Homo sapiens: one gene and its partners. The protein of the gene in region 3 interacts with the protein of the main gene of each other region in a biochemical or structural test. Each region holds a gene or a part of one and is shown on either strand. Other genes may lie near its edges. The genes, in order: CRK, ERBB3 and ABL2.

What was found.
Region 1: of the proteins of ABL2 (region 3) and CRK, one has a biochemical effect on the other in vitro, tested with the Homo sapiens proteins (2 studies listed by BioGRID and IntAct, with this or other methods).
Region 2: the proteins of ABL2 (region 3) and ERBB3 form a complex in vitro, tested with the Homo sapiens proteins (2 studies listed by BioGRID and IntAct, with this or other methods).

Annotation. Positions count from the first base shown.
Region 1 is NC_000017.11:1,449,582-1,453,232, forward strand, and holds part of CRK (adapter molecule crk), read right to left. Parts: intron 1-3,651. UniProt on the Homo sapiens protein: Involved in cell branching and adhesion mediated by BCAR1-CRK-RAPGEF1 signaling and activation of RAP1.
Region 2 is NC_000012.12:56,090,143-56,093,793, reverse strand, and holds part of ERBB3 (receptor tyrosine-protein kinase erbB-3 isoform 1 precursor), read right to left. Parts: intron 1,048-3,651; coding exon 974-1,047; intron 809-973; coding exon 718-808; intron 450-717; coding exon 244-449; intron 31-243; coding exon 1-30. UniProt on the Homo sapiens protein: Tyrosine-protein kinase that plays an essential role as cell surface receptor for neuregulins.
Region 3 is NC_000001.11:179,223,105-179,226,755, forward strand, and holds part of ABL2 (tyrosine-protein kinase ABL2), read right to left. Parts: intron 1-3,651. UniProt on the Homo sapiens protein: Non-receptor tyrosine-protein kinase that plays an ABL1-overlapping role in key processes linked to cell growth and survival such as cytoskeleton remodeling in response to extracellular stimuli, cell motility and adhesion and receptor endocytosis.

The DNA of each region.
Region 1 (3,651 bases), on a different chromosome or scaffold from region 3:
TAAGGCCCAACCCAGGATCCACAGCTCAAGCTTATAACGACTCTCCTAACTCACACTCCTTCAGCTGTGTCAACCTGAAAGGTTTAGCTGTTCAAGAGAAAAAAAACTAGTTTCTTGCAAGCATTCCAAGGAGGTCCATCTTGAAGCCCAACCTGACAGAATGTGACCAGTAGACTTGGCCAAGCCCTTCCTTATGGCCCCAGGGAACTCCCAAGCTATGGCACCACAGGAAGCCTATGCAAGCTGAGGACCCAAGACAAGTTAAAAACAGGTTCAACGGAAAAGGCTGAGAATCACTGGCCCATTCTGTACCCATGCCTTTAAAAATAATACCCAGCTGCGCACGGTGGCTCACGCCTGTAATCCTAACACTTTGGGAGGTCAAGGCAGGTGGATTACTTGAGGTCAGGAGATCGAGACCAGCCTGGCCAACATGGTGAAACCCCCATCTCTACTAAAAATACAAAAAAATTAGCTGGGAGTGGTGGCGCATGCCTGTAATCCCAGCTACCTACTCAAGAGGCTGAGGCAGGAGAATGGCTTGACCCGGGAGGGGGAGGTTGCAGTGAGCTGAGATCGTCCCACTGCACTCCAGCCTGGGCAACAGAGCAAGACTCTGTCTCAAAACATAAATAAAGTTTAAAAAATAAGGCGCGGTGGCTCAGGCCTGTAATCCCAGCACTTTGGGAGGCCAAGGTGGGCGGATCACGAGGTCAGGAGCTCAAGACCATCCTGGCTAACACGGTGAAACACCTCTCTACTAAAAATACAAAAAATTAGCCGGGCATAGTGGCGGGCGCCTGTAGTCCCAGCTGCTCAGGAGGCTGAGGGAGGAGAATGACGTGAACCCGGCAGGCGGAGCTTTCAGTGAGCCGAGATCGCGCCACTGCCCTCCGGCCCGGCGTGGGCGACAGAGCGAGATTCTGTCTCAAAAAAAGAAAAAAAACACATAAAAATGACACCTAAGCCATTCCATATAATTTTCACCTATGCACTGTGTAAACAAAATATACTCTGTAGGCTAGATGCGATGGCTCACACCTGTAATCCCAGCACTTTGGGGAAGCCGAGGCGAGCGGATCACTTGAGGCCAGGAGTTCAAGACCAGCCTGGACAACGTGGCAAAACCCCGTCTGTACTAAAAATACAAAAAAATTGGCTGGGCATGGTGGCGCATGCCTGTAATCCCAGCTATTTGGGAGACTAAGGCAGGAGAACTGCTTGAACCCAGGAGGTGGAGGGTACAGTGAGCTGAGATCGCGCCACTGCACTCCAGACGGGGCAACAAGAGCGAAACTCCCTCTCAAACAAAACAAAACAAAACAAATAGGCCGGGCGCGGTGGCTCACACCTGTAATCCCAGCACTTTAGGAGGCCGAGGCAGGCAGATCACAAGGTCAGGAGATCGAGACCATCCTGGCTAACACGGTGAAACCCCATCTCCACTAAAAATACAAAAAATTAGCCGGGCGTGGTGGCGGGCGCCTGTAGTCCCAGCTACTCGGGAGGCTGAGGTAGGAGAATGGCATGAACCCCACGGGGCGGAGCTTGCAGTGAGCCGAGGTCGTGCCACTATACTCCAGCCTCGGTGACAGAGCGAGAAACTGTCTCAAAAAAAAAAAAAAAAAAAGCAATAACAATTTTAAAAAGCTTCTTCATCATTGACTTTAGATAGCAGATGTGTATTGTCTGAATAATAAAGCCAGTGGCACGATCTCAGCTCACTGCAACCTCTGCCTCCGGGGTTCAAGCGATTCTCGTGCCTTAGCCTCTCCAGCAGCTAGGATTACAGGCGTCCGCCACCACGCCCAGCTAATTTTTGTATTTTTTAGTAGAAACAAGGTTTCACCATGTTGGCCAGGCTGGTCTCGAACTCTTGACCTCAAGTGATCCACCCTCCTTGGCCTCTCAAAGTGCTGGAATTACAGGCATGAGCCACTGCGCCCGGCCTCTTCTTGCCATTCTTTAATTCTGGTCTTTAAAAAACCTGGGCTGGATGCGGCTGTATGTGCCTGTAGTCCCAGCTACTCACAGCCTGAGTCAGAAGGGCTGCCTGCCCCAAAGTTAAGGGCTGTAGTGCACTATGACTGTGCCTGTCAACAGCCACTGCACTCCAGTTTGGGCAACATAGTGGGGGGAAAAAAAAACAAAAAACACAAGGCCGAGGTGGGCGGATCACCTGAGGTCAGGAGTTCGAGACCAGCCTGGCCAACATGGTGAAACCCCGTGTCTACTAAAAATACAAAAAAAAAAATTAGCTGGGCACAGTGGCACATGCCTGTAATCCCAGCTACTCGGGAGGCTGAGGCAGGAGAATCACTTGAACCTGGGAAGCAGAGGTTTCAGTGAGCCGAGACTGCACCACTGCACTGTAGCAGCCCGGGGGGCAAGAGCGAAACTCCATCCAAAAACAACAAAACAAAAAACACCAAGTCTTAGACTCCAGGGCAGAGGCAAAGTATTGAGGATATTGAGGATACGGACCTCTATGTGCACTGCTGAGATGCCAAAAGAACGCTGGCTTTGAGAGTGTAGTGTAAAAGGGTCAGCTCTCAGGTCAGAATGCCTAGGTTCAACTTCTGAAAGTCATTTATTAGTTGTGTGACCTTAAGCAAGTTACTGAATCTATGAGTGTTTCCTCCTGTATAAAATGGGAATATTTTAATAAATGGAGATCATATTACTTATCTCACTAGATTGTCCTAGACAGTAAGTGAAATAAGGTACATAAAGTACTCAAAGTACCTGGCACAGAATAACCAGTCAATAAACATTAGTTATTAATATTCTATACGCCTCTCTAAAAAATTCAAGAAATTTCTCTGTGTGACTTCAAAAGGACTTGGTGAGGGGGAGAACAAAGATTCAGTACTTAGTACTTGAGATTTGTGAGGTACAAAGTAATTCTGAGGTTATACAGACAGGCCAGGCGCTGGTGGCTCACGTCTGTAATCCCAGCACTTTGGGAGGCCGAGGTGGGTGGATGATCAGAGTTCAGCAGTTCGAGACCAGCCTGGCCAACATGGTGAAACCCCATCTCTACTAAAAAAATACAAAAATTAGCTGAGCATGGTGGTGGGCGCCTGTAATTCCAGCTACTCAGGAGGCTGAGGCAGGAGAATTGATTAAACCTAGAAGGCAGAGGTTGCAGTGGGCCAATATCGCGCCATTGCGCTCCAGCGTGGGAGACAAGAGTAAAAACTCGGTCTCAAAAAGAAAAAAAAAAAAAAAGACAGCAACTGACCAGGCACAGTGGCTCACACCTGCAGTTCCAAAACTTTGGGAGCCTGAAGCATGAAGTCTATTGAGATCAGGAATTTGAGACCAGCCTGGACAATACCGTGAGACCCCTCATCTCTACAAAAAAATTTTCAACAGTTAACCAGGCATGGTGGATACGCCTGGAGTCCCAGCTACTCAGGAGGATGAAGTGGGAGGATGGCTTGAGCCCAGGAGGTCAAGGCTGCAGTGAGCTGTGTTCATGCCACTGCACTCCAGCTTGGGTGACAGAGGCTCTGTCTCAGAAGAGAGAAAAAGACAGCAACTGAATCGTAGAAAATGGGGTACAACATGGCAGAAAGAATTATCACAATACTCGTGAATTTTCCACACCCCATCCATAAACTTTGGCAATCTTCACCGTCTTTCCTC
Region 2 (3,651 bases), on a different chromosome or scaffold from region 3:
ACAGTGGGTCACACACTTTGCCCTCTGCCACTGGAAAGGAAGGGGTGGGTTAGGAGAGGAGTCTGAGGACTCCCAGCAAGCCCTCTCTTCATTATTCTTCCTCGTTACTGCTTCCAGCCTAACAGCCCCCTTCTCCTTGGTTCCATCCCTCAACCCTACTCCCACGTCTAGGGCAGAATAGTCCTTTCAGCCCTCTCCTCCCTGACTCCCTATTCTCACCACCTAGCAGACCCTTTCCCTCACCGCAGTCTCTGCGCGGCCGATTATGCTTGATGTCTAGTCGCTCTTCCGTAGGCCCCCGAAGCACCTTGGTCCAGTTCAAAGAGTGGTGGTAGCAGAGCTGCCTATTGGCACTTATATAGATACGCCCAGCACTAATTTCCTTCAGGGATCGGAAGCCCAGAGATGTGACATTCAAGTTCTTCATGATCAACAATGAGAAGCCCCGGCTGAGAATAAGGAGACAGGATGAGAGGAGAGACTACTAAGGGAACATTAACTATTCAAAGGATTCATGTTAGTCAAGAAATTTGCTCAGTGCTAGTCAGATCCACTGAGAGGGAATCCCCCTCCTTTTGCCTTTTCCTCGTGAAACTCTGAAACCCTTTGGTTTTGAGGCACTGCTGTATGAGACAGTGCCTTGTATTTTACTAAAGAATGCCTATGACACAGGCTTCATTGCCTGAAGATGCCATTTCCTCCATACCCTTTACTCACTTGTAGAGGCTTCTGCCTCCAATGGTTGTCAAATTGGAAAAAACACTGAAGTTGTGCATGTGGGGCGGCCAGGACTGGATGTTCAGGTAACCTGAGGGGTTGGAGAGAGGCATATGGGCAGGGAGCCTTCTTCTTTCTTGGGTTCTCCTGGCTCCTCCCCTATAACTTGGGACGTGATTTTCTCAAGTAGTTATACCGCAATTTATGCCAGTGGTTCACCTATTCTTCTAGAAAGGGCAAACTCTCTGCCACTCACCTGTGATCTCCCGTACTGTCCGGAAGACATTGAGCTTCTCTGGGTCCAGGGCAGGGATCTTGTGCCAGGGGTCTCTGAATAGAACAGTAGAAACCAGTCAATAAGGTAAAGGTATAACTCAATGGCAATGAGCACACCCAGCCTCAGCATTTGGTTTCTAAATATCATTCTCCACTAAAAGGAAACATTCCTTGGAGAAATGGCTGGGATGGGGGAAATATAATATAAGCCCAGAGCATCTTGTGCAAACAAGACAAGACTCAAAGAATTAAGGGTACAGCCCAAAGAACACAGGAGCCAACTTGGAGGGGCTGGCTAAAATAAATAATGATTGTAAAGGATTATAACCATTGACTAGAATAAAATAAGTATCCATAAGAGTAAATAGGAAAGGAAGACCTTTTTTTTTTTTTTTTTTTTTTTTTTTTTTTGAGACAGAGTCTTGCTCTATCGCCCAGGCTGGAGTACAGTGGCAGCAATCTCAGCTCACTGCAACCTCCACCTCCTGGGTTCAAGTGATTCTCCTGCCTCAGCTTCCTAAGTAGCTGGGAATACAGGAGCACACCACCATGCCTGGCTAATTTTTTGTATTTTTAGTAGAGACAGGGTTTCACCATGCTGGCCAGGCTGGTCTTGAACTCCTGACCTTGTGATCCGCCCGCCTCGGCCTCCCAAAGTGCTGGAATTACAGGCATGAGCCACTGCACCTGGCCTTTTTTTTTTTTTTTTTTTAAGAGACAGGGTCTCACTCTGTTGTGCAGAGTGAGTGCACTGGCTGGAGAGCAGTAGTGCCATCATAGCTCACTGTAACCTTGAACTCCTGGGCCCAAGCAATTTTCCCACTGGCTCCCAAAGGGCTGAGATTACAGGCATAAGCCACTGTGCTCAGCTGGAAAGACTCTTCCTAACAGTAGAATGCCAACAAACAAATGCAGAAGGAATAATGGAATTAGAAAATTATCATTTGGCAACTATCATAACAATAATTGATTCAGGCAATTATCCCAAGACATTCATTAATTGTGAATGGAAAAATAGTAACTTTACAGTAGAAAAACCTGACAGATATCACCTTAACTAAGTGACCAGAGACATCATTGTGAGTGCTGGGACAAATCAACATCACGTACATCCTCAATAGGATGCCCTGAGCTCACAGCCTCTGTGGTGTTCTTATCAAACTCCAGCCTGGCAGCGGCGCATGCCTATAATCCCAGCACTTTGGGAGGCTGAGACAGGAGGATCACTTGAGCTCATGAGTTCGAGACCATCCTGGACAACATGGTGCAACCCTGTCTCTATAGAGAATGGCTTGAACCTGAGAGGTGGAGGTTGCGTGAGCTGAGATCACGCCACTGCACTCCAGCCTGGGCAACAAGAGCGAGACTCCGTCTCAAAAAAAAAAAAAAATATATATATATATACACACACATATATAAATATATAAATAGTATATAATATTTATGTTTATATATATTTATATATATTATTTATATATATATATTTATATTTATATATATTATTTATATATATATATATATATATATATATATAAAATTAGCCAAGCATGGTGGCATGCACCTGTAATCCCAGCTACTCAGGGGGCTGAGGTGCTCGCTTGAGCACGGGAGGCAGAGGTTGCAGTGAGCTGAGATCATGCCACTGTATTCCAGCCTGGGCAATAGAGCCAGACCTTGTCTCAAAAAAAAACTACAAAAACTTGAATCTAATCATGAGGACACATCAAACTAATCCAAACTGAAGAACATGCTGCCCATTACCTAATCTATACTCATCAAGAATATCATGAAAGATAAACAAAACCTGAGGAGCTGTTATAAAGGAGATTGAAGTGCCACGATAACTGAATGTAATGTATGATCCCAAACCTTAGGAGGACAATTAGTGAAATCTGAATAAGGTCTGTAGCTTAGATAATATTTTGTGTTAATGTTAATTTTCCGATTCAAACAACTATGCTGTGGTTATGTAAGAAAATATTATTTTTAAGGAATATACGCTGAAATATAACAGGGGTAAGAAAGAACCATGTGTGAAAATTTACCCTCACGTGGTCCAGAAAAACAATAGCATGTGTTTTGTGTGTGTGTGTGTGTGTGTAGAGAGAGACAGAGAGAGAGAGAAGTGATAAAGCGTATGTGGTATTTTTTTTGGCGGGGGACAGAGTCTCGCTCTTTCACCAGGCTGGAGTGCAGTGCCGCGATCTCGGCTCACTGCAACCTCTGCCTGCCAGGTTCAAGCTATTCTCCTGCCTCAGCCTCCTGAGTAACTGGGACTACAGGCGCACACCACCACGCCCAGCTAATTTTTGTATTTTTAGTAGAGATGAGGTTTCACCATGTTGGCCAGGATGGTCTCAATCTCTTGACCTCGTGATCCACACCTAGTGATCCACCTGCCTCAGCCTCCCAAAGTGCTGGGATTATAGGCATGAGCCACTGTGCCCGGCCATATGTGGTATGTTAACATTTGGAGGATCTGGGTAAAAGAGTGTATGGGGGGCCAGACGCGGTGGCTCACACTTGTAATCCCAACACTTTGGGAAGCTGGGGCGGGTGGATCACTTGAGGTCAGGAGTTCGAGACCAGCCTGGCCTACATGGTGAAACCCTGTCTCTACTAAAAATACAAAAATTAGCCGGGCATGATGGCACACAC
Region 3 (3,651 bases):
CTCTCAAAAAAAAAAAAAAAAAAAAAAGTCCAGATGCAGGGCCTCATGTCTGTAATCCCAGCACTTTGGGAGGCCAAGGTGGGAGAATCACTTGAGCCTAGGAATTTAAGACCAGCCTGGCCCAGTACAGCAAGACCCCATCTCTACAGAAAAATTTAAAAATTAGCCAGGCATGGTAGCACGCACCTATAGTCCCAGCTACCCAGAAGGCTGAGTCAGGAATGGCTTCAGCCAGGAGTTTGAGGCTGCAGTGAGCTATCATCATGCCACAGCACTCCAGCCTAGGCAACAGAGCAAGACCCTGTCTCAAAAAAAAAAAAAAACCACCTAAGTAAATAAATAAACTATCGAATAAAGCAGGCTGAAGACCCTTACAGAGAAACTTCAGACTTCATCACTTTACTTGGAATTTTACTGCCAAGTGGGCTATGAGAACAGAATCTGTACCACAACTTATTACTTTGCTAAAAATATGGACCCCAACTACACATCTATAACTTACACAGATTTGGAGATTAATAAAAATCTAACAGCTGATTTTTTTTTAAAAGTTTAGTCTGCAGGATTGGCACTCAAGAAAAAAAGAAAAATAAATAAAAATAAAAAATGAAGTTTAGTTCTTATATTAAGTCACCACAATTAAAATTCCCTCACAACAGCCTTCCTGTGCTTTCCATAGCATCGTTTTCAACCTGGGGTGCCAACAGCCTTCATTCCACAAAGATTAAAACATGAACTACTGGCCGGGTGCGGTGGCTCACACCTGTAATCTCAGGACTTTGGGAGGGCAAGGCAGGCAGATCACTTGAGCCCAGGAGTTCAAAACCACCATGGGCAACATGGCAAAACTCTGTCTCTACAAAAAAAAAAAAAAAATAGAAAGGCATGGTGGCGTGCACCTATAGTCCCAGGTATTCAGGAGGCTGAGAGGTGAGAGGATCACTTGAGTCTGGGAGGTCAAGGCTGCAGTGAGCCATGATCTCGCCAATGCACTCCAGCCTGGGCAAGAGAGTGAGACCCTACTCACTACAAAAAAAAAAAAAAAAAAAAAAAACTACAGATCCAAAATAAAAAATAAATAAATAAATCAGATCACTTAAAATAATGAGTTTGATTTAAGGAAAAATTTTTGTTATTCCAAACTTCATAATGTAAGGGTTTTTGTTTGTTGGTTTTTTTGGAGACGGAGTCTTGCTCTGTCGCCCAGGCTGGAGTGCAGGTGCGCGATCTCGGCTCACTGCAAACTCCGCCTCCGGGGTTCAGGGGATTCTCCTGTCTCAGCCTCCTGAGTAGCTGGGACTATAGGTGCCCGCCACCACACCTGGCTAATTTTTGTATTTTTTTAGTAGAGACAGGGTTTCACCATGTTGGCCAGGCTGATCTCGAACTCCTGACCTCAGGTGATCTGCCCACGTCGGCCTCCCAAAGTGCTGGGATTATAGGTGTGAGCCACCACGCCCAGCCTAAAGTTAATTTTTAATAGAATTTTTAGAAAATGAGAGAGGGAAGCTAAAGTAAAATCATTCAGCTGTTAAAAGGTATGTGAGATATTCAACAGCAAGTAAGTATTCAACCCTAGATTATTAGTCATGAAACATCAGCTCACCAGAAAGGTTTAATAGCAGAGCTTGCCTCTCGCAGTGGCTCACGCCTATAATCCCAGCACTTTGGGAGGCCGAGGCAGAGTATCACCTGAGCCTAGGAGTTTGAGACCAGCCTGAGCAACATAGTGAGACCTCCGTCTCTACAAAAAAAAAAAAAAAAACACAAAATTACCCAGGTGTGATGGCGTGTGCCTGTAGTCTCAGCTCCTCGGGAGGCTGAGGCAGGAGGATTGCTTGAGTCCAGGAGTTTAAGGCTGCAGCGATCTACGATCGCAGCACTGCACTCCAGCCTGGGTGGCAGAGCAAGACCTTTCTCTAAAATAAAACATAAAATAAAAGAGTTGACAAAAAAAATAGCAGATCTCAGAAAAGTCACACAGCACTCACTCCTTTCATACCAAAAATGGCTCTATTATTTTTGTTCCTTCTAAATTACATTCACAAAAATCACTTTTGGCAAGGCAAATTATTATCACAGCTTACCCACATATTATTAACGATAAAAAATGACCATTTTAGCTAAAGAAAGAAAAGTCCTGGACTCTGATAAACCATTTCCATAATGTATGTACCTTTTTACTGATTAACTAAATGTATTATTTGGCTTATATTAAAACCTACATGTAAACCCAAGAGTCTAACAGACCTAACATTCATATATGAAATTATGTGCTAATACCTCAATATGGCAAACTCAAGACAGTAATTTGTACACTAGATTCGAGCACCTACATTTACCATGTAAAGGTCAAATGATACATCCACTGAGAAGCTTTCGAATCTAATTCATTCATTCATTCATTCAATTCAGAATCTATCACATTTCTAAGTGGTGTCCTCAACTAGGGGCAATTCTGCCCCCCAAGAGATTTAACAATGTCTGGAGGCATTTTTATAACAAGTAAGGGGCAAAAAGAAGGTGCTACTGGCATCTAGTGGGTAGAGTCCAGGGATGCTGCTAAACATCCTACAATGCACAGGACAGCCCCCCAAAACACAGAATTAGCCAGCCCAAAATATCAATGCCGCCGAGGTTAAGAAACTATGACGTGGCCGGAAGCGGTGGCTCATGCCTGTAATCCCAGCACTTTGGGAGGCCGAAGAGGGCGGATCATGAGGTCAGGAGATCAAGACCATCTTGGCTAACACGGTGAAACCCTGTCTCTACTAAAAATACAAAAAAAAATTAGCCGGGCGTGGTGGCAGGTGCCTGTAGTCCCAGCTGCTCGGGAGGCTGAGGCAGGAGAATGGCGTGAACCCGGGAGGCGGAGCTTGCAGTGAGCCGAGATCGCGCCACTGCACTCCAGCCTGGGCGACAGAGTGAGACTCCGCCTCAAAAAAAAAAAAAAAAAAAAAAAAAAAGAAACTATGATGTACAGAAAAAAACTTTTTAAACCCATCTGTCTAAAAAACAGTACTCACTGCACCTTTGTTTCCTATATTATTTGCTAATTCCTTTCTTTTCATACTAGTCTTTGGCAATAAACTCGACCTATTCCCATTTTTTCAATCAGCTTCTAACTTCCAAACTTGTCAATAGAATCTTCATCATCCCAGTTAGCCAGGTTCTAAATCCTGGTGTCATCTTTGAATTATCCCTACTTTTTTTTTTTTTTTTTTTTTGAGACAGAGTCTCGCTCTGTCACCCAGGCTGGAGTGGCGCGATCTTGGCTCACTGCAACCTCCACCTCCCGGGTTCAAGCGATTCTCCTGTCTCAGCCTCCTGAGTAGCTAGGACTACAGGCGCGTGCCACCATGCCCAGCTAATTTTTCTATTTTTAGTACAGACGAGGTTTCACCATGTTGCTCAGGCTGGTCTCGAACTCCTGACCTCATGATCTGCCCACCTCGGCCTCCCACAGTGCTGGGATTACAGGCGTGAGCCACCGCACCTGGCCGAATTACTCCTGTTTTTAATAATAACAGTAGTATTAGTAATGGCAGCAGCTACACACATTTAGCTCATACTATGTGCCCAGCCACTATTCATTTAATACTAGGTACTATTATTATCACCACTTTACAAATGAAGAGTCCAAGACACAAA